Linked DNA regions of Homo sapiens. The protein of the gene in region 2 purifies or fractionates together with the protein of the main gene of each other region. This does not show direct contact. Each region holds a gene or a part of one and is shown on either strand. Other genes may lie near its edges.

The links. The genes of interacting proteins can lie anywhere in the genome.
Region 1: the proteins of CIMAP1D (region 2) and NMT2 purify together in Homo sapiens (affinity purification with mass spectrometry; 3 studies listed by BioGRID and IntAct, with this or other methods). This does not show direct contact.
Region 3: the proteins of CIMAP1D (region 2) and GPHN purify together in Homo sapiens (affinity purification with mass spectrometry; 3 studies listed by BioGRID and IntAct, with this or other methods). This does not show direct contact.

Annotation. Positions count from the first base shown.
Region 1 is NC_000010.11:15,109,677-15,116,702, reverse strand, and holds part of NMT2 (glycylpeptide N-tetradecanoyltransferase 2), read left to right. Parts: intron 1-3,739; coding exon 3,740-3,907; intron 3,908-4,916; exon of another isoform or gene 4,917-5,175; intron 5,176-6,863; coding exon 6,864-7,001; intron 7,002-7,026.
Region 2 is NC_000019.10:471,979-479,551, reverse strand, and holds the start of CIMAP1D (protein CIMAP1D), read left to right. Parts: upstream 1-4,568; 5' UTR 4,569-4,804; coding exon 4,805-4,931; intron 4,932-6,920; exon of another isoform or gene 6,921-7,050; coding exon 7,051-7,158; intron 7,159-7,243; exon of another isoform or gene 7,244-7,398; intron 7,399-7,573.
Region 3 is NC_000014.9:66,511,138-66,518,163, reverse strand, and holds part of GPHN (gephyrin), read right to left. Parts: intron 1-7,026. UniProt on the Homo sapiens protein: Microtubule-associated protein involved in membrane protein-cytoskeleton interactions. It is thought to anchor the inhibitory glycine receptor (GLYR) to subsynaptic microtubules.

The sequences.
Region 1 (7,026 bases), on a different chromosome or scaffold from region 2:
GTCTTCTCTTTCTTTGTTTTTGTCCATATTGGTAGACTTGTATCATTTTATTGATTTGTTTCCCAGAGAACCAGACTTTTGTTGGATATTCCCTGTTGTCTTCCTGTTTTCAGTGTCATTGATTTCTACCCTCGTGTTTATTGTTTCCTTCTGTCTGCTTGCTTTGGGTTTATTTTGCTCTTCTTTTCTAGTTCCTTGAGGGAAGAACTTACTGACTTGAGACCTTTCCCTGTTACTAGTAAGCATTTAGTTCTATCAGTTTCCCTCTCTGCACTGCTTTAGCTATTTCTGACGTATTTTGGTATGTTGTATCTTCGTTGTCATTCACGTCTATGTATTTTTTGGTTTCGTTTGAGGCTTCCTCTTTAGCCCACCCCTACTTAGAATTGTGCTGTTCAATTTTGCTGTGTTTAGAGATTTTCTGTTGTCTCCCTATTACAGATTTCTAGTTTGATTCAATTATGGTTAAAGAACACACACTGTATGGTTTTGATTATTTTAAGGCTCTTGAGGTTTGTTTTATTACTCGGGATATGGACTGTCTTGATGGATATTCCATGGGTGCATGAAACGTGTATACCACTACGGTTGTGTGGAGTGTTCTTTGTATGGCAATTGCATCATGTTGATTAATTGAGTTATTCAGCTCTTCTGTTTCCATGCTGATTTTCTGTCTAGCAGTTCTATCACTTGATGAGAGGGGCATGGAAGTCCCCAGCTGTAATTGTGGATTTGTCTATTTCTCCTTCCAACACTGTCAGTTTTTCTTGATTTCTTCTGGGCCTCTTGTTTGATACTCACATGTATATTAGGGTCTTTGTGTCTCCCTAGTGGATTGATCTTTTTATCATAATGTAATACCTCTCTTTCTAATAATTTTCCTTGCTCTGGAGTATACTTTATTGTATATTACTGTGACCAGACCTGCTTTTAAAAATTGTTTGGACTTTTTCCATCCTTTTACTTTCAAACTATTGATGTTATTGAATTTGAAGTGAGTTTCTTGGAAACAGCCTATAGCTGGGTCATGTTTCTTTACCCACACTACTGATGTTTCTTTTGATTGGTGTATTTAGACCACTTACATAAAAGGTGATTATTGGTATGGTAGAGCTTAAGTCTACCATTTGATTATTTGGTTTCTTTATGTTTCTTCTGGTTCTTGTTCCTCTGTTTCTTTTTTCTTGCCTTGCTGTGGATTACTTGAATATATTTTAGGATACTGTTTTATTTATAGTACCTTTGGGTGTATTTGTATAGTTTTTATGATGGTTGATGTGAGTATTACAATATATATATGTGACTTATAGTCGATTGGTAACAACATTTATTACTTTGAGTCACCTTACTTTTATTTAGGTCACTTTACCTTTTTCATTTTTAAATATTGTTGTCTTAAATATCAGACAGTATTATGATTTTTGTTTTAATCATCAAGTATGATTTGTAACACTGATTAATAATGATGCTTGAGGAGAAGCATAATTTATTATATGTAGCCCAAATTTCTACTCTATTATTCTTCCCTCCTTCCTGATGCTTCAAGATTCCTTCTTTTATTATTTCCTTTCTATTTGAAGAAATTCCTTTAGCCAGTCTCAGGGTATGTCTGCTAGTGACACATTCTTTTGGTTTCCATTTGTGTGAGACTACCTCTGTTTTTAGATTTAGTTTCCCAATTTTTTTTTTTAATTTTTTTTGGAGACAGTGTCTTGCTCTGTCACCCAGGCTGGAGTACAATGGTGCAATCTCTGCTCACTGCAACCTCCGCCTCTTGGGTTCAAGCAATTCTTGTGCTCAGCCTCCTGTGTAGCTGGAACTACAGGCGCATGCCACCACACCCTGCTAATGTTTTGTATTTTAGTAGAGACGGGGTTTCACCACGTTGGCCAGGCTGGTCTCGAACTTCTGAGCTCAGAAAATCCACCCACTTTGGCCTCCCCAAGTGCTGAGATTACAGGCATGAGCCACCATGCCCAGCCCTAGTTTGCTAATATTTTACTTAGGATCTTCTATACTCACTACTGAGGTTGGCCATTAATTTCCCCTTCTTACCCTGTCCTTGTCCTGTCTTGATACCAAAGTTAGAATGAGCTGAAGAGCTTGTCCTCTCTTTTCTCTGGAACAGTGTATGTAATAATAGGGATTACTTGTTCCTTGAAAGTTGTTAGAAGTTGCTTATAAGCCATCTAGACATGGTGCCATGGTGGGTTTTGTTGTGAGCGGGGTTTTTTTGTTTTGTTTTGTTTTGTTTTGTTTTTTATCAGTCTTTACAATTGATTGGGTGTGAGGGACAATGGAAAGATCATCCCACTCTTCCCCAACAGTTGGTGATTCTCTGGTCATTTTAACAGCAAGAGAGGAAACAGTAATTTTACCAGCAATATGAATGTGAAGAAGTAGTTTTCTGAAAGCAGATGATGAAAATGGGGTGGGGAACCTAATCAGGTTCTGCAGGTGCCTGCAGTAATTCAGCGTATGAGATGGATATGAGAAATTCTTAGAAGAATCTAAAATCCTTATTAAACCTGAAGGTTGAATTCATCTCCAATACTGAGCTGCTAATATAGAGCAGTAGGGAATCACTGTAGATTAACCCCTTTAGTTTCTTGCTGGCTGAAGAAAGGTCTAATGACTCGGAAGCCTTTGAAAACCAAAGCATACATCCTTCTGGAATTTCCTTTTCTGCTGAAAGAAATACTAGCAGTGGCATGTGTGTGGTCCAGCCTCTTCAGCCGCACGATTCAAACACATCATATTCTAAAAGTCAGCAAGGCCACCACAGCTAATTACAACAACCCGAACAATACTGGCTAATTTCTTGTATTGGAAGCTTTGCCAGTGATGATGAAATGAATGTCATCCATTGTATCCCTTATTTTTGATAGCTGCAAAATTCTCCAGTTGTTCACATGTGTATATTTTGGTGCAGTAGTAAGACCTTTCACAAGCTTGCGAACTCTTCCAAACAGCTTCCAGACTCTACCCAACCTTACTTAGGCCTGATATAATTCTTTCTGTGTGCTAAGACAGTGTGAGATAGTACACAGTATCTTTTAGTTGGAGAAGGCAGCCCTCTAATCCTTAAAGCTTTTATTTCTGCAAAAACAATGAATCTGCTTTTATCACTGTTCCCTTAGTCTAAAGAATTGACTCATTTGTCAGCCTGAGGGAAGCTTTCCTTTTAGGACATTCTGCTTCTATCTTTCTTTCTTTTTTTTTTTTTTTTTTTTTTTTTTGAGTCTCATCCTGTCGCCCAGGCTGGAGTGCAGTGACACAATCTTGGCTCACTGCAACCTCCGCCTCTGGGGTTCAAGCGATTCTCCAGCCTCAGCCTCCCAAGTAGCTGGGATTACAGGTGTGCGCCACCACACCTGGCTAAGTTTTCATATCTTTAGTAGAGATGGGGTTTCACCATGTTGGTCAGGCTGGTCTCGAACTCCTGACCTCATGATCCACACGCCTCATCCTCCCAAAGTGCTGGGATTACAGGCATGACATTCTGCTTCCTAAGAACTTTGTGCAAATCACCAATGGGCACTTAGGCTGAAGTCCCAACTCCAGGCCCTTCTTGGCCTCTACACAGCACAATATAAGGGGCCCCAAATTGGACTGCCGAGAAAGAAGTGTGACTTACTGCTTTTCGTTCTCTGGGGCAAGGGAGAGAACAGAGTTAGTGGAAATGCACGTATGCAGTTGGTTCAAGGAGATCTCTGTCTGACAGCACTTTTGCTCCTAGAGCCCCAACGGTAAACTGACTGATTTCCTGAGCTTCTATACGCTCCCCTCCACGGTGATGCACCACCCTGCTCACAAGAGCCTCAAAGCCGCCTACTCATTCTACAACATCCACACAGAGACGCCCCTGCTGGACCTCATGAGCGACGCGCTCATCCTGGCTAAATCGGTAAGCCACTCCTTCCTGTTCACGCCGTTTGGTTCTCCAAATGTCTGTGCCAAACTATAGAAGACATCTTACTGTGTTTTCTTCCACACAGGTGGAATTTATGCGAGACTTTAAAAAAACTATTGATCATCAGTCAAAGGAAGAATTTTGATAAGAGTTTCTTTTGAAACTTTAGAGGCTATTTTCATCATTAATTTTATGGCAGTTTAACAAAAAAGACAAAATGTACAAATTATAAATGTTTAATCCTTATATAAGAATATATAAGGCTGGGCATGGTGGCTCAGGCTTGTAATCCCAACACTTTGGGAGGCCGAGATGGGTGGATCACCTGAGGTTAGGAGTTTAAGACCAGCCTGGTTAATATGGTGAAACCTCGTCTCTACTAAAAATACAAAAGTTAGCCAGGCTTCGTGGTGTGTGCCTGTAATCCCAGCTACTCGGGAGGCTGAGGCAGGAGAATTGCTTGAACCTGGGAGGCAGAGGTTGCAATGGAGCTGAGATTGCACCACTGCACTCCAGCCTGGGTGACAGAAACTGTCTCAAAAAAAAAAAAAAAAAAAAAAAAAAAAAAAAAAATATATATATATATATATATATATATATATATATATATATATAAAGCCCATATCTTAGGAAGTAATATAAGGAAAATATTAATACATGAGTGAATATTTTTGTTGAGTGAATAACTAGCAGCAATTTTTTTATTCAACCAAATAGTCTCTGAATTTTAAAATTAAAGGAATGAAATTCAAAATTTAATTGTAGCCAGTCTACATGGTGAAACCCTGTCTCTACTAAAAATACAAAAATTAGCAGGGTGTGATAGCACACACCTGTAATCCCAGCTACTCGGGAGGCTGAGGCAAGAGGATTACTTGAACCTGGGAGTTGGCGGTTGCAGTGAGCCGAGATTGCACCATTGCATTCCAGCCTGGGCCACAGAGTGAGACCCTGTCTCAAATTAATTAATTAATTAAAATAAAATAAAATAAAAATCTCTTACCTGTGCCTTTGGATCCCCAAGTCAACATCATCCTCAGATTGTCTGCTTTTTTTCAACACTTCCCAAATATGGCCAGTAATTAGTTATTTAAGGTAAAAACCCTGAGAAATAAAAATAAAAAGTGCTTCTTCTATATCACATTTTGCATAGTATTATTGTCTGACATTTTAAAGAAATTTAATTTTTTACCATTAAAATTTTACATAAATATATTTCCCATTATCAGCCCAAAGCAAACATACTATTTTTTTATACTTTTTTTTTTTTTTTTTTTTTTGAGATGAGTCTTGCTGTGTTACCCAGGCTGGAGTGCAGTGGCACAGTCTCGGCTCACTGCAACCTCTGCTTCCCATGTTCAAGTGATTCTCTTGTCTCAGCCTCCAGAGTAGCTGGGACTATAGGTGTGTGCCACCACACCTGGCTAATTTTTGTATTTTTAGTAGAGACAGGGTTTCATCATATTGACCCGGCTGGTCTCGAACTCCTGACCTCAGGTGATCCACCTGCTGCGGCCTCCCAAAGTGCGGGGATTACAGGCGTGAGCCACCACGCCCGGCCTGCATACTATTTAAAGTCTTTACAACTTTGGTCCCTGGGCAATAGCTTCAGCCAAGGTAGGACTTAGAAAGGCTAATAATTAATAATCCTGGAGATGAAACCATCTTGACAACTGTTCCCTTCTAAAACAAGAACGAGGCTGGGTGCAGTGGCTCATGCCTGTAATCCCAGCACTTTGGAAGGCCAAGGCAGGTGGATCACTTGAGGTCGGAGTTCAAGACCAGCCTGGCCAACACGGTGAAACCCGGTCTCTACTAAAAATACAAAGAAATTAGCTGGGCATGGAGGTGCACACCTGTAATGCCAGCTACTAGGAAGTTTGAGGCAGGAGAATTGCTTAAATCTGGGAGGTGGAGGTTGCAGTGAGCCGACATCATGCCACTGTATTCCAGCCTGGATGACAGAGTGAGACTCCATCTCAAAAAAATTTAAAAATAAATAAATAAAACATAAATAAAATATTTTCTGAAATCTTCATAAGTAATTTTATGCCAGTGACAGCCATCATACTACATTTTTAACATTTTTGGGATTCAGCGTTTCTGAATTTTCATGCTGACTTCATTGGATTCACTATAGTTTGTTTGTTTTTTGAGACAGGCGCTCACTCTGTTGCTCAGGTTTAAGTGCACTGGCACAATCACAGCTCACTGCAGCCTCGACCTCTTCGGCTTATGCAATCCTGCCTCAGCCTCCTGTGTAGCTGGGTCCACAGGCACACACCACCATGCCGAGTCAATCTTTTTATTTTTGTAGAGACAATGTCCTGTACCTACACCTACACCTATACCTACAGCCTATGCCCAGGCTGGTTTCAAATTCCTGGGCTCCAGTGAGCCTCCCACCTTGGCCTCCCAAAGTGCTGGGATTACAGGCGTGAGCCACCACATCCAGCCACACTGCTAGTTTTATAAGACAATTTTCAACTGAATTCTTCCTCTTTTTAAAGAAAGAAAAAAAAAAAGTCTCACTCTGTCGCTCAGGCTGGAGTGCCGTGGCACAATCTCGGCTCACTGCCACCTCTACCTCCCAGGCTCAAGCAGTTCTCCTGCCTCAGCCTCCTGAGTAGCTGGGACTGCAGGTGTGCGCCACCACATCTGGCTTATTTTTGTTATTTTTAGTAGAGATGGGGTTTCGCCATGTTGGTCAGGCTGGTCTCGAACTCCTGACCTCAAGTGATCCACCCACCTCAGCCTACCAAAGTGCTGGGATTATAGGCATGAGCCACAGCATCCGGCCCTGAATTCTTAACCTATGCTATATATCACGGACGTTAAATCCTATTAGAAATGCATATTCGAGCTATTAGTAGAATTGTTAAACTGAGATATGTAATACAGAAAACACTAGTCCTTTGTTTTAAATTTTAAATCTTTTTTAAATTGGCAGAAAGGATTTGATGTATTCAATGCACTGGATTTGATGGAAAATAAGACATTCTTGGAAAAACTCAAGTTTGGTATAGGAGATGGCAATTTGCAGTATTACCTGTACAATTGGAGGTGTCCAGGTACAGATTCTGAAAAGGTAAGTGAAATGGATATAGCCCTTG
Region 2 (7,573 bases):
ACGCCTGTAATCCCAGCTACGCGAGAGGCTGAGGCAGGAGGATCACTTGAACCTGGGAGACAGAGGTTGCAGTGAGCTGAGATGGCGCCACTGCACTCCAGCCTGGGCGACAAGGGTGAAACTCCATCCCCCCCCCCCCCAAAAAAAAAAAAAGAGAAAAAGAAGAAGAAAAGGGCTCCCTGCTCCTAGTGAGCAAAGGCAGCTTCCTGAGCTTCTACAGCCCTTAGTATTTATTGGGTAACAAGAGCAGAGAGGAGGAGGTAACGATTGAGCAGCTGCTTAATTGATCACAGGTTCATATTGTTACTGACGGGCTTCAATTATGCCTAATCGTAGGAAACATTTGTGCCTGGGTGGTGATGGCCCTCAGCAGCCCTTCTGCACGGCAGACGCAGTTTGTCAGTTTGCCAACATTCTGCATTTACGAGAACAGTTTGCTGTCTACTCATATAGCCCCCCAGTGGTATACTGAGTTGATCACGGCCCTCACTCTTTCGGCCTCCAACACCCCCTTCGCCCACGTTTCCTCCATAGCGCGACGTGCCCTCTGCACTCACGTAAGTTTCACTTATCTGCCTGCCTGTCTCCAAGGGAAAGGGAGGACGAGGAACTTGTGTGTTTTGTCCTCTCCCGTTTTCCCAGCACCTGAGCAGGGCCTGGCCCCAAATAAACACTGGCTGAGTTCCTAATTACGGTGAGAACAAGGGTCTCGGGAGCACCAACGGAGTCACCTCCCACCCAGGACACCCAGGCCGGGCAGTGACGTCCCTCGCCTGCAGCCGGCAGCTGGGCGGGTGGACGTAGGGCCGGCCTCCGGCCTCTCATCCGGTCCAGCCTCCCTTTTTTTCACTGTTGTGATTTAGTCTCTTCTGTCGAGCAGGCAGGATTAAAATCAGGGCTCATCTGCATGTGTGTTGAATTCATTTGCATCTCATTTGCAAGCTCTTTGCTTGGCAGTTGCGACAAGCTCTGAGCTGAAGACAGAGTTGATAGAATCTGGTGCGATCAGATCAGAAGGGGACTGGTGGCTGGAGGGGCCCCAGCTCGTTCTGGCGAGGCTGCCGGCCCTCAGCGTCCTCCCAGCAACATGCTGTCGGCTTGGCCGGCTTCCCATCCTGTCTTCCCTGTGTTAGCTTTTGGTTCCACCCCACGTAAAATGGGGAAACGGAGGCAGGTGGGGCCGAGTCCGGGCTGGAACCAAGTCTCTGGCTGTCTGCCTTTAGTGGCTGTCTGGTGTGGCCTGGACCTGGTGACCCGGATGTGAGGAGGGATGGGGTTGGGGGAACACCTTCCAGGCCCTTGTCCCCTCTGTCTCTTTAGCCGTGGGAGCCCCTGGGGTCCTGCACTTCGGCTGGTTTTGGTGAAGGAGCAGCTTTGGTCGAGGGAGGTTGGGGCCTTTCCTCCTCTCTCCCTCCTCGGCACCCATCCCTGCTGTGGCTCTGGAGTTGTGCTGCCTCTGGAAACGAGCAAATGGTGTGTCCAAGGTTGGGCAGTGACAGGGCCTGTGGGCTGGGGGCCCTCGTGACCGAGGAAGGGGCCAGCGAGGGTTGGTTTGCTGGCAGAGGCATCTCAGGTAGAGAGAGCTCAGGCAGAGGCCGAGGTGGAGACCGTCTTAGGGGCTCGAGGGAGGGAAAGCAGGTCCGGATGGTCAGAGTAGAGCGGCAAAGGGGAAGGAGCAGGACGAGAGGACAGGGGGAGGTGGAGACGAGGCCGTGCAGGGCCTGCGTGCCGTGGCGTGGCGCGTGTCTGCAGTCCCAGCTACCCGGGAGGCTGAGGCAGGAGAATGGCGTGAACCCGGGAGGCGGAGCTCGCAGTGAGCCGAGATCGTGCCACTGCACTCCAGCCTGGGCGACAGAGCGAGACTCCGTGTCAAAAATAAATAAATACACAAATAAAAATAAAAATAAAGACCAGCTTTTTTGGGATGGGGAGGAGGCGTTCTTTTTTTCTCTTTTTTTTGATTTTGACGTGGAGTCTCGCTCTGTCACTCAGGCTGGAGTGCAGCGGTGTGATCCTGGCTCAGTGGTGCAACCTCCACCTCCAGGGTTCAAGCGGGTTCAAGCGAGTCTCCTGCCTCAACCTCCTGTGTGGCTGGGATTACAGACGTGCACCACTGTGCCCAGCTAATTTTTTTATTTTTAATAGAGACGGGGTTTCACCATGGTGGCCAGGCTGGTCTCGAACTCCTGATCTCAAGTGATCCGCCCGCCTCGGCCTCCCAGAGTGCTGGGATTACAGGCATGAGCCACAGTGCCCGGCCAAGGGATTATTTCTACAGTTTTCAATTTCATGGATTTCTACTGTTATCTTTACAATCTTCCTTATACTTACTCTTGTTTTCCTAGCTTCTTAGGTGGAAACTTAGGCCTAGGCTGGAGTGCAGTGGCACAATCTTGGCTCACTGCAGCCTTGGCCTCCTTAGGCTCAAGCAATCCTCTCACCTCAGCCTCCTGAGTAGCTGGGATTACAGGCACACACCACCACTCCTGGCTGATTTTTGTATTTTTTGTAGAGATGGGGTTTCACCATGTTGCCTGGGCTGGTCTTGAACTCCTGAGCTGAAGCAATCTGCTTGCCTTGGCTTCCCAAAGTGCAGGGATTACAGGTGTGAGCCGCTGTGCCCAGCCTTCTTTTCTCATATAAAAATTTAAAGCAACCATTTTCCCTCTAAGTACTTCTTTAACTGCATCCTACACAGTTTAATATGTTGATTTTTTATAGTCATTTAGTTTGAAAATTTTCTAACTTCCTTTGTGATGACTTCTTTGATGCGTGGGTTATTCAGAAGTATGTTGTTTAACTTCTAAATATATTTGGGGGATCCTGGATATCGTATTGTTGGTGATTTCTATTTTAATTCCTTTTTCACCAGATAATATGCTCTGTAAGTTTCAAAAGTTTGATATGTACTAAGACTTGTTTTATGATCCTTTATGTAGACTATACCATTTTGATTAAAAAATTTTAAAACATGCAATACATTAAAATTACATTGCAGGGTGAAATGTATAATTGTATGGTATGTGAATTATATCAATAAAGCTGTTAAAGATGACACTGCAGGCCAGGCACGGTGGCTTACGCTTGTAATCCCAGCACTTTGGGAGGCCGAGGTGTGTGGATCACCTGAGGTCAGGAGTTTGAAACCAGCCTGGCCAACATGGAGAAACCCCATCTCTACTAAAAATACAAAAAAATTGGCTGGGCGCGGTGGCTCACACCTGTAATCCTGGCACTTTGGGAGGCTGAGGCGGTTGGATCACAAGGTCAAGAGATTGAGGCCATCCTGGCCAACGTGGTGAAACCCCGTCTCTACTAAAAATACAAAAAAATTAGCTGGACATGGTGGAGTGTGCCTGTAATTAGCTACTAAAAATACAAAAAAATTAGCTAGACGTGGTGGTGCATGCCTGTAATCCCAGCTACTCGAGAGGCTGAGGCAGGAGAATTTCTTGAACCCTGGAGGCGGAGGTTCCAGTGAGCCGAGATCGCGCCACTGCATTCCAGCCTGGGCGGGGGAGCAAGACTCTGTCTCAAAAAAAAAAAAAAAAAAAAAAAAAAAAAATTAGCCAGGCGTGGTGAAACCCCATCTCTACTAAAAAATATAAAAATTAGTCAGGCGTGGTGGCGGGTGCCTGTAATCTCAGCTACTCAGGAGGCTGAGGCAGGATAATCGCATAAACCCGGGAGGCAGAGGTTGCAGTGAGCCGAGATCGCACCAGCGCACTCCAGGCTGGGTGACAGAGTGAGACTCTGTCTCAAAAAAAAAAAAAAATTACACTGCAAAAGGCTCCAAAAAATACAGAAACAAACAAGGAAGAGACAGGAACGTGCATCTCATCTGGCAGTTTTCTGAGCCTCTTCTTGGAGCCTCACGCAGTGGTCGCCTTGAATGTATCAAAATCCATTGTGGTTTAAATCTCGGAGGCATCTGGGAGGCAGTGAGGACGGCTCTCACCTCCCCGCTGTCCTCGCCGCTGCCCCAGGGCCTCTGCACGGCTGCCTCCTCACCTGCTTTGGGACTGTTCAGTTTTACCTTCTCCGTGGGGCTCACCCACACCCACACTGCTACCCTGGGCCCCAAACCTGTCTGCGTTTTCCCTCACGTTCAGTGCCTCCTCATACACCAGACTGTGTTCACTTATCACATTTACTGACGACTTTCTCTCTCCCATCCTGAGAACATCTCCTTCTTTTCCGTCTGTTCGTGTCCAGTTCTCACCACCCCCAACAGAGGCTGGTACACAGTAGGTGCCCAGTACATGCTTTGGCAGGAATGAGTGACAGGATGAGGCAGTGAATGCTTCTTGGCTCAGAGCTGAAACTCCCAGAGTTGTGTACTTGCTGTATGACCTTGGGCTGTGCCTCAGTTTCCCCAGGTGTAGAAACGGGGCCACGCCACCCACGACCCCGCCAGGCCCTCCTGCTGCAAGGCTGTGGGTGTCATGTTTGCAGGTCTAGTTCCCTGGGGCCGGCCCTGGCCCCAGCTGCCCAGCTCTGCCGGCTCCCGGGAGACGCACTCTGCTGACACCGGACTCTTTCCTGGACCATCCAGCCGCCTGGCCGACACTCGATCCCGGCCCCACTTCCAGGCCAGTGTCCGGCCGACCAGCCTGCCTTGGGCCAGGGCCCCACGACTCCCTGCTGCGGGACAAGAGGCCGTCTGTGCGGCTGTGGTCGTGGGAGGGTGTGGTGAGGCCGTGAAGGTGGGGACGGTGCCTGGGCCTGTGGCCGCCAGAGCTGCTGCGGCTCAGAAGGTAGCACCAGGCCCCGTGGGTGCTGTGGGGGCCATCGCCTGCCCACCATGGGGACCCTCAGCTGCGACTCCACCCCACGGCTGGCCACAGCCCCCCTTGGCCGGCGAGTGACGGAGGGCCAGATTCCGGAGACCGGCCTGAGGAAGTCCTGTGGGACGGCCACCCTGGAGAACGGTGCGTGCCAGCCGTGGGGGATGGGTGGGACCTTTTCCTGCTCCACTCCCCATACTTCTGGGGCTTCTGGAATGTTCTGGGAGCCCAGCAGGAGGCAGGAGTTTCAGGCAAGTCCTTGCCCTTCCCCAGACCTCAGTTTTCCTTCCGGCAGGATGGGTGTGGACACGGGGTTGCCGTGAGCCCCGAGTATGTGTCTGTCCAACGGAAGCTGCGTGCTTTGCCAGCCGGGTCCCCTTCCAGGGGCTGTGGGTACAGCAGTGGGCAAAGCCACAGCGATCATGCGGGAGACGCGGGGAGGAGGGAATATTTCCAGCGTGGCCCTCAGGGACGGGCGCCCTAGACAACGTGGGGCAGGGCGAGGGGCGCGTGTGCGGAGGCGGCTCTGCTGGGAGCCACATCAGCTGCTGGCCTCGGTGAGGGCCCAGGACGGGCCGCAGTTTCCTCACCCACAATTAGCGGCTGGAGTCAGGCCCCAAGCCAGGTCCTCGGGCTGGTTCTGTGGTCTCTCCTGATCCCTGTGGCATCGAGATTCTGCAGAAGCCACAACACATGGCGTCTGTGACCGTGTATCTCTGGGAGGCTCAGGCCTCAGTCTCCCCATCTGTGATCGTGTATCTCTGCCTGGGCCTCAGTTTCCCCATCTGTGACCGTGTATCTCTGCCTGGGCCTCAGTTTCCCCATCTGTGACCGTGTATCTCTGCCTGGGCCTCAGTTTCCCCATCTGTGACCGTGTATCTCTGCCTGGGCCTCAGTCTCCCCATCTGTGACCGTGTATCTCTGCCTGGCCCTCAGTTTCCCCATCTGTGACCGTGTATCTCTGGGAGGCTCAGGCCTCAGTCTCCCCATCTGTGATCGTGTATCTCTGCCTGGGCCTCAGTCTCCCCATCTGTGATCGTGTATCTCTGCCTGGGCCTCAGTTTCCCCATCTGTGACCATGTATCTCTGCCTGGGCCTCAGTCTCCCCATCTGTGACCGTGTATCTCTGGGAGGCTCAGGCCTCAGTCTCCCCATCTGTGACTGTGTATCTCTGCCTGGGCCTCAGTTTCCCGATCTGTGACCGTGTATCTCTGCCTGGGCCTCAGTCTCCCCATCTGTGACCGTGTTTCTCTGCCTGGCCCTCAGTTTCCCCATCTGTGACCGTGTATCTCTGGGAGGCTCAGGCCTCAGTCTCCCCATCTGTGATCGTGTATCTCTGCCTGGGCCTCAGTTTCCCCACCTGTGACCGTGTATCTCTGCCTGGGCCTCAGTTTCCCCATCTGTGACCATGTATCTCTGCCTGGGCCTCAGTCTCCCCATCTGTGACCATGTATCTCTGCCTAGGCCTCAGTTTCCCCATCTGTGACCGTGTATCTCTGGGAGGCTCAGGCCTCAGTCTCCCCATCTGTGACCATGTATCTCTGCCTAGGCCTCAGTCTCCCCATCTGTGACCGTGTATCTCTGGGAGGCTCAGGCCTCAGTCTCCCCATCTGTGACCGTGTATCTCTGGGAGGCTCAGGCCTCAGTTTCCCGATCTGTGACCGTGTATCTCTGCCTGGGCCTCAGTCTCCCCATCTGTGACCGTGTATCTCTGCCTGGGCCTCAGTTTCCCCATCTGTGACCATGTATCTCTGCCTGGGCCTCAGTTTCCCCATCTGTGACCATGTATCTCTGCCTGGGCCTCAGTCTCCCCATCTGTGACCATGTATCTCTGCCTAGGCCTCAGTTTCCCCATCTGTGACCGTGTATCTCTGCCTGGGCCTCAGTTTCCCCATCTGTGACCGTGTATCTCTGCCTGGGCCTCAGTCTCCCCATCTGTGACCGTGTATCTCTGGGAGGCTCAGGCCTCAGTTTCCCCACCTGTGACCGTGTATCTCTGGGAGGCTCAGGCCCCAGTCTCCCTGTCTGTGCCCCAGGGTGAGGGGGGCTGCTGTCCCCAGCTTTTCCTCTGTGATTCATGTCTGACTCACAATGCAGGCATCACATTTTGTCCCCGACGGGCAGCAGCCTCTTGCTCCCCGGGGCCCCCAATCCTCACCATGGAGGGAGAGGGGAACCCAGGCTAAGGCTCAGGAGCTGGGTCCAGGGCTCCTTCTTCGGGGAATCTGGGCCCAGGAGGTGACCTGAGGGCTTTGGGCTGCAGGCTCGGGGCCAGGCTTGTATGTCCTGCCGTCCACCGTGGGCTTCATCAACCACGACTGCACCAGGGTGGCCAGTCCCGCCTACTCGCTCGTCCGGAGGCCCAGTGAGGGTAAGGCGGGCGAGTGGGCGGCTGGAGGCTTCCCTGATCCTCCAATCTCCCCCCAGGAGCACTGATGGGTCTCCTTACCCCTTAGATCCAGGCCCCCAGTTAGTGCGGCAGGAAGCAGGCAGGGCTGGGCTGTACAACCTGCTCCACCTCCTACTTACTGTGAGACCTCAGGCAAGCTGCTGTCCCTCTCTGTTTTTTCATTGATAATGAGAATGGAAGGAGAAAGAGCGCAGTAAGGAGGTGAGTACCTGTACCTGCCTTACCGTGTTTGCAATTCCTTGCTGCCTGGACTCAGGCAAATTGCTTAAGTGCTTTGCAACTCAGTTTCTGTTAAAAGTTAACAATAGCAGGCCGGTGCGGTGGCTCACGCCTGAAATCCCAGCACTTAAGGAGGCTGAGGCAGGCGGATCACGAG
Region 3 (7,026 bases), on a different chromosome or scaffold from region 2:
ATTTTTTGCAGGGTTTTTTTTGTTTTGTTTTTTTCTGGGTTATTTATTTATTTATTTATTTATTTATTTGGCTGTTAAGATGTTTGAGTTTCTTGTATATCCTAGATATTAATCCCCCGTCAGATGAACAGTTTGCAAATATTTTCTCCCATTCTATAGGCTGCCTTTCATTCTGTTGGTTATTTCCTTTGCTGTATAAAAGCTTTTTAGTTTACTATAATCCACTTGTTTATTTTTGCTTTTTTTGCCTGTGCTTTTGAGGTCTTATTTATAAAATTTTTTCCCAGACCAATGTCCTGAAACATTTCCCCTATGTTTTCTTCTAGCAGTTCCATAGTTTCCTGTCTTACATGTAGGTCTTTGATTCATTTTGAGTTAATTTTTGTACAGAATAAGAGGTGGGGCTCTAGTTTCATTCTTCTGCATATGGATATCCTTTTTCCCAGAAACATTTCTTGAAGATACTGTCCTTTCATCAGCAAATGTTCCTGGGACCTTTCTCAAAACTCAGTTGGCTGTAGATATGAGGATTAATTTCTGGGTTCTCGATTCTGTTCCTTTGGTCTATGTGTCTGTTTTTACACCAGTACCATGCTGTTTTGGTTACTATCACTCTGTAGTATATTTTAAAGTCTGATAGTATGATGTCTCCAGCTTTGTCCTTTTTGTTCAGGATTGCTTTGGCTATTCCAGGTCCTTTATGGTTCCATACAAATTTTAACTTTTTTTTCCCTATTTCTGTGAAGAATGTCATTGGTATAGAATGTCATTGATAGGACTGCATTGAATCTGTAGATTGCTTTGGGTAGTGCCCACTTGCAGTTTAATCCAAACGTAACTTCTACAATGTGGATGTTAATTTTATGAAAGCATAATTTTTAAAGTTTAGACTATAATCAAAATGTTCTGTATAGACTCTTAGGTGAAAGTGAAGAGGGGGGCACCACCGTGTAAATGTTCCTTCATCTTTTTACATCTGAAAATAGTATTTTTACTCTATTCAGTTTCTTCTTTTTTTTTTTTTTTTTTTTTTTTTTGAGATGGAGTCTCACTGTGTGGCCAGGCTGGAGTACAGTGGCACAGTCTTGGCTCACTACAATCTCTGCCTCAGGGGTTCAAGTGATTCTCCTGCCTCACTCCCGAGTAGCTGGGATTACAGGCACACACCACCATGCCTGCCTAATTTTCATATTTTTAGTAGAGGTGGGGTTTCACCATGTTGGCCAGGATGGTCTCAATCTCCTGACTTCGTGATCTGCCCGCCTCAGCCTCCCAAAGTGCTGGGATTACAGGCGTGAGCCCCTGTGCCTGGCTCAGTTTCTTATTTATAAGATATCCAACAGTTCTTAACCATTAATTAGACTTTAAAGATTATTAATTTCAAGTGCACATTAATGTGTTTTTTAAAAGAACAAGAAATAATTAAAAGAAACATTTCATTTTTACTTAGCATTCAAATTGCACTTAATCTCTTTCACTCATAGAGTGGATTTTTATTAACATTTACAGCATCAGGCAGACACATTTAGCCATGATCCTGAAATCGTGAAGTACTATACAAAGAAATAAAGCTATTTATTATAGTAATATCCACTCATTTTCTGATGCCCTGAACCCAAAAGTGAAAATATGTGCCTTTAGACCCTCACTTCAAATCTAACTGGATGTAATATCACAAATAATTCTTAGCAAGTTTATGTGGTTCCCAAGGATATAGTAGATTAGAAGGGCAGGGCAGGAAGAGGAAGGGCAAGTGGGTAAAACCTGAAAAGCATATACGTTATGGAAACATACTATCATGTCACAGTAACAGATATTCAGAATAGAATGTAGAAATATAATTGCTGGCCAGGCACGGTGGCTCACATCTGTAATCCCAGCACTTTGGGAGGCTAAGGCAGGTAGATCACTTGAGGTCAGGAGTCCAAAACCAGCCTGGCCAACATGGTAAAACTCTGTCTCTACTAAAAATACAAAAAAAAAAAAAAAATTAGCCAGGCATGGTGGCAGGCGCCTGTAATCCCAGCTACTCGGGAGGCTGAGGCAGGAGAATCACTTGAACCCGGGAGGCAGAGGTTGCAGCAAGCTGAGATCGCACCACTGCATTCCAGCCTGGGCGACAGAGTGAGTCCGTCTCAAAAAAAAAAAAATGTGTATCAAAAAAATGGCTTGACATAAAAACAGTTTTGGTGCTTGTACTTGTTATCTACTTAAAAAATAAAATATAAAAGCACCTTATTCCTTGAAACATAAATGAAGCATGAATGTGTCAATATTCAACTTGACTGAATAATGTTTTCACAGTAGTGCTAGAATATATGCTTCAAGACAAGAAAGATTGAACTGTCTTAATCACTATTGTATCCTTCACTTAGCACAGGGCCTTGGTACATAGTAGGTGTTGAATACTGAATACATTATTTCATTTCTCACATTAACCCATCAAGGTAAACACACTTACCCCCATTTAAAGGTAAGGAAACTGTGGTAAAATGTGCTTATCTTGAAAGTGGGAGAAGAGGCATAACTTTTGACTCCTAACAGTGTTATTTTGATCACCAGAATCAACATTAACAGCATTTTCAGAATTTTTTTACCTATAATTTCAAATTTTTAGTTTTTAGATATCAAATTTCATTAGTCTAAAATTATCCTCACACAAACAACACCCAACTAAAACAATATACAAAATTTAATGCTATAAAACATCTCAAACACACATCGTTATAAATATCATCCTATTACCAGAAAAACATACCTTTTAAAAACTAATCAACTTCACTCCATCTACCCTAAACTATCCTTTTAGTAATAATAGCCAAGTTCTGGTTTACCTAAATGTTTCTTAAGGTACTATATAAATTTTACACCACCCAATTTTTTTATTAAACACCTTCTATCCAATTACTTCATTAACAGATGCTATGACAAAAGGGCACAAAAGAAGTAAAGAACATAACCATATATCTCAAGAACTTTAAAATCTACTTTGAATAAGACATGTATACACGAAACTGTGGCAAGTTGCTCCCAAAGCAACATACAAAGAGGAAGGAACCAAAAATAACTGAGTATCTCATCTGAAAATGCTAGGCATTTTCATATGCGTTACCTCTATTAGTTCTGAAAACTTTGTAAAGTAGATATTGCCATCTTCATTTCGGAGAAGAAAACTGAAATTCAGAGAGGTGAAATGACTTCCCAAAATAAAGGGCAAATGAGGGTCTGAAGTCCAAGTCTATCTGACTCCAAAGTTCTATCCTTTTTAAGCTACACCATGCAGCCTCCCACATATAGATTACAGGGTATAGACAACATTTATAAACGTTGTAAGGAAAACAAAGAAAGACATCATTGAAGAGAATAATTCCTAGGAAATATTTTATTGACAAAGTCAGTCCTGAGCTGTGTCTGAAACCTAAGTGTAAGATTGCTAATAACAGAAAGATTAATGTCACAAAAATTTCTAAATAAAAAATCTAAATATTTTCCTTCTTTGATCATTATTCTATTTCTTATTCTCTTGCATTTTTATGTATAACCTACCCTCCCCTATAATCATTCCCATTATAAAGACAGAAAAAAATTAACTAGGTCTAATATCCTATATTTCTCTTTCCTGCTGGTCAGAATGCTAAAAGATAGAAACATATACTGCCATGAGAGCCTTGAAGTGATCTTAGAGAGTGATTTCTTCATTTTAGTGGTAAGAAAAGCTGAGAGAGGGTTACACAATATACTGAAGGTTACAAAACTTTACTAGCCAGAATAGTATGAGAACATAGTTCTTACAGTGTTCTTTCTATGATTCAGTGCTCCTTAAATTTTTTGCCATGAAGTGTCAATAACGCAGAAGAATGACGAGATCTGGAGCTCACTTGAAATATAATGGGCTCACTTGAAATTTCTTTGAAGTTTCTAATTTCATCTTAAAGCCTCATATGAATTCTATACTTTGTGCCTAATTTACTTATGCTTATCTTAATATTAAAGTTATTTAAATTAATACCATCAAGTAAAATTGGTACTTAAAAAATTATTATGTTTGTTCCTGTGGCTTAGATTCTAAGCCTTATAGGTATCCCTTGACACAATGTCATGTACTCCAGTTTGAGAAGAATGCCCCAAATTATGGTGACAATTCCTTCATCATATTTCATTTCCTTGCTGCTTTATTTTTCAAATTAAGAATTCTTTTTAAAGCATGGTAAATTTAATTACACTCTTTCGAAATGTATAAATACTGACAAAGCTACTGTTAAAATTGTTGGGGTTGTTTAAACACAAAATTTTCAAGAAGCTCTACTTAGTTAAAATTAATTTATTAAAAACAATTTAGTTTATAAATTCATTAAAGAACCTGGATAGAACTTCTACCTAGCAATACTTCATTAAACATTTCCTTTTTGAGAGGTCACTCAAAAAAACTTTTTAATGAAAGTGAGATTAGATGCCATTCATATTGACTACAGTCCCAATTACTTTTAAGTAGGTTAAACAATCTTTTCTTCTTCCTTGGTATTTATCTTCTCTGCCCAGATGTGAAGGAAGAAATCCTTTGTGGTTTCACTACTTTCTTTTTCAGGATCTTTTTTTAATACCTTTCAAATTCCAAATATGCTTCATTATTCTTCAATCCTATTTACAGAAACAGAGTAATAGATTTTATCTATTTTACTGATTGTTTTTAAAAACACCCTGTTCAACTTAGCCAGGAATCTATCACTAGCAAGATTAAAAATAGACTCTTATTCGTCACTTCCTCCCTAAAAACATACTATTGACTTTCCACTATATGCCTGCTTGAAGTCAAATAGTTGTATGTGTTTTTAATGTATTTAAAACTCTTATTGTATAGCAACTAATACTTTTTCAAGTCCTTGGCCAGTGATGATAGTATTAAGTATATTCACTTTGAAGTCAAATTGTCACATGTGTTTTTAATATAGTTAAAATTCTTATTGTATAGCAACTAATACTTTTTCAAGTCTTTGACCAATGATAATAGTACTAAGTATATTCATTAGAAATTAATTTAACATTTTCCTACTTTGCCTAAACATTTAATTCTCTAATACATTGCTTTCAACAAAAAATTCACAAAATAACAATCTATTTCAAGAAATAGGATTCCTTTCAAGTCATATAGATCAATATTAAAAACACATATTAAAAAAACAGCTAAGTTAGGCAGAACATACAGTTCCACTTAGTAGGATTTAATAGTAATTTGCCTACTTAATGACATCTATTCTCAAAACAGATATAATATGTATATATCCTTATCAATAAATGGGCTTTTCAGAAAATAATATTGACACATAATATACCAGAACAGGTTTCAAGAATGTAAAAAAGTAAATGCTTAAACAATTGCAGAGTTATGACAGTAGCATCTGCTTGGCTCAAGCTTGTTTTTTTAATACTTTGAATGACTTCATTTATGAATAACTGAAATACTCCCTACCTGTTACTGTAATATTTTGATGTTCTCATTTACAATTAGTCTTTTAACTAATCTCTAGTACCTAGTCTTATATTTGTTCCAGTATCTCTTACTGATTTCAAATCAACAGGTTAGTGCAATTAAAATGTATATTACTACAGCAAAAATATGATTTTTAAAAATGCCCTTTCCCAAAAATTTGTACCTTTTTCTCATTCATGCCCCTATTAGTGACAATTTAGGTAATGGATTATCATCTTCAGCTAAGTACCTTGGTATCAAACATTAGCTGTAGCGAACTAATACGATATTCAGTAGCCAATGGAATAATCTATATGATTCTACATTCTATACATACATGTAGTCATTATTTTCCTAGTAATGTTTCTGTAGAGCTTTTACAGGTAAAACTAGTATGCTGCTTTGATAAACAGCTTCTTTCAAAATAGAAAAAAGTATGTGAAGAGTGACATATTCCAGATATAGTGAGCCTGCTATGTAACTGGTAAGATTGACTTCAAGTATAATCACTACTAAAGCTGTTAGAAAAAAATTCTACATCTGCACCACATCCTGTTTCTAGTTTTCAAGTAGCAGATACTTGTTTATTTGCTTCATGTTACTCATTACCATATTACCTCTAGTCTCTTCTATAAATAGTAATACAAGTAGACAACTAATTAGACACAGAAATATTTCAAACTAGACCTTAGGTCACCAAACACCATGTGACTTTCATTTCTGTCAAGTCAACATAAGACAGTTTCGAACAAAGTTATTGTTGTTAGAGATGGACAATAATATTCAACATAAAATGTTTCCACATACAGCCTATTTTATATACATATATGTTCTCATTTTCCTGATTTAAAAAAAAGTATAATTAGAATATCCATGTTACATTAATTATCATAATCTCATTTTCAAGTGCTTAATAATTCAAAATAATGAAGCAAAAAAATGCTTCTGCTAAATATTTCCCTTTCTACCATTATTCTTTCATAAACCTAATACAATTAATTTATTTAATGAGAAGTCTCAACAGACTATGTACTAAATTTGCCAAATTTACAACTGAAATGAAGATAACGAAAACATCTAATGGATGAAAAGTTTCAAAGAACAAATATCTTTCAACAGGTAATAAAAAATGTCACAACGTCAATTAAAAACTTTAGAAATGACAATATGACTTCACAAAATACTAAGTAACATATTGTAAAATGTGTGTGTGGGTAGATCACACTTTCCACTATCTTTGTAAAATAGATATAGATAAAATACTTAAAATTAGTATTACGAAGCATGCCAAGGAGATTTTCTAAAAGAGACCCTCCACCTTTTAAGAGCCACAAATAATAATTTACAAAAACCACAGTTCAACTCAACTTTCTTAAGTATGAAATCACAATACTTCAGTTCAGTAAAGAATAATTCTACATAGTAAAACTGCAAAACCTCAAGTTCTAGAATACACAAAATTGTACAGCACAGCTTCATTTTTGTAAGTTCTTTCCCCCAAATCATATGGTATATCAGGCAAGACCACAGAAATTAAGCTGTTGATAATGAAACCCACT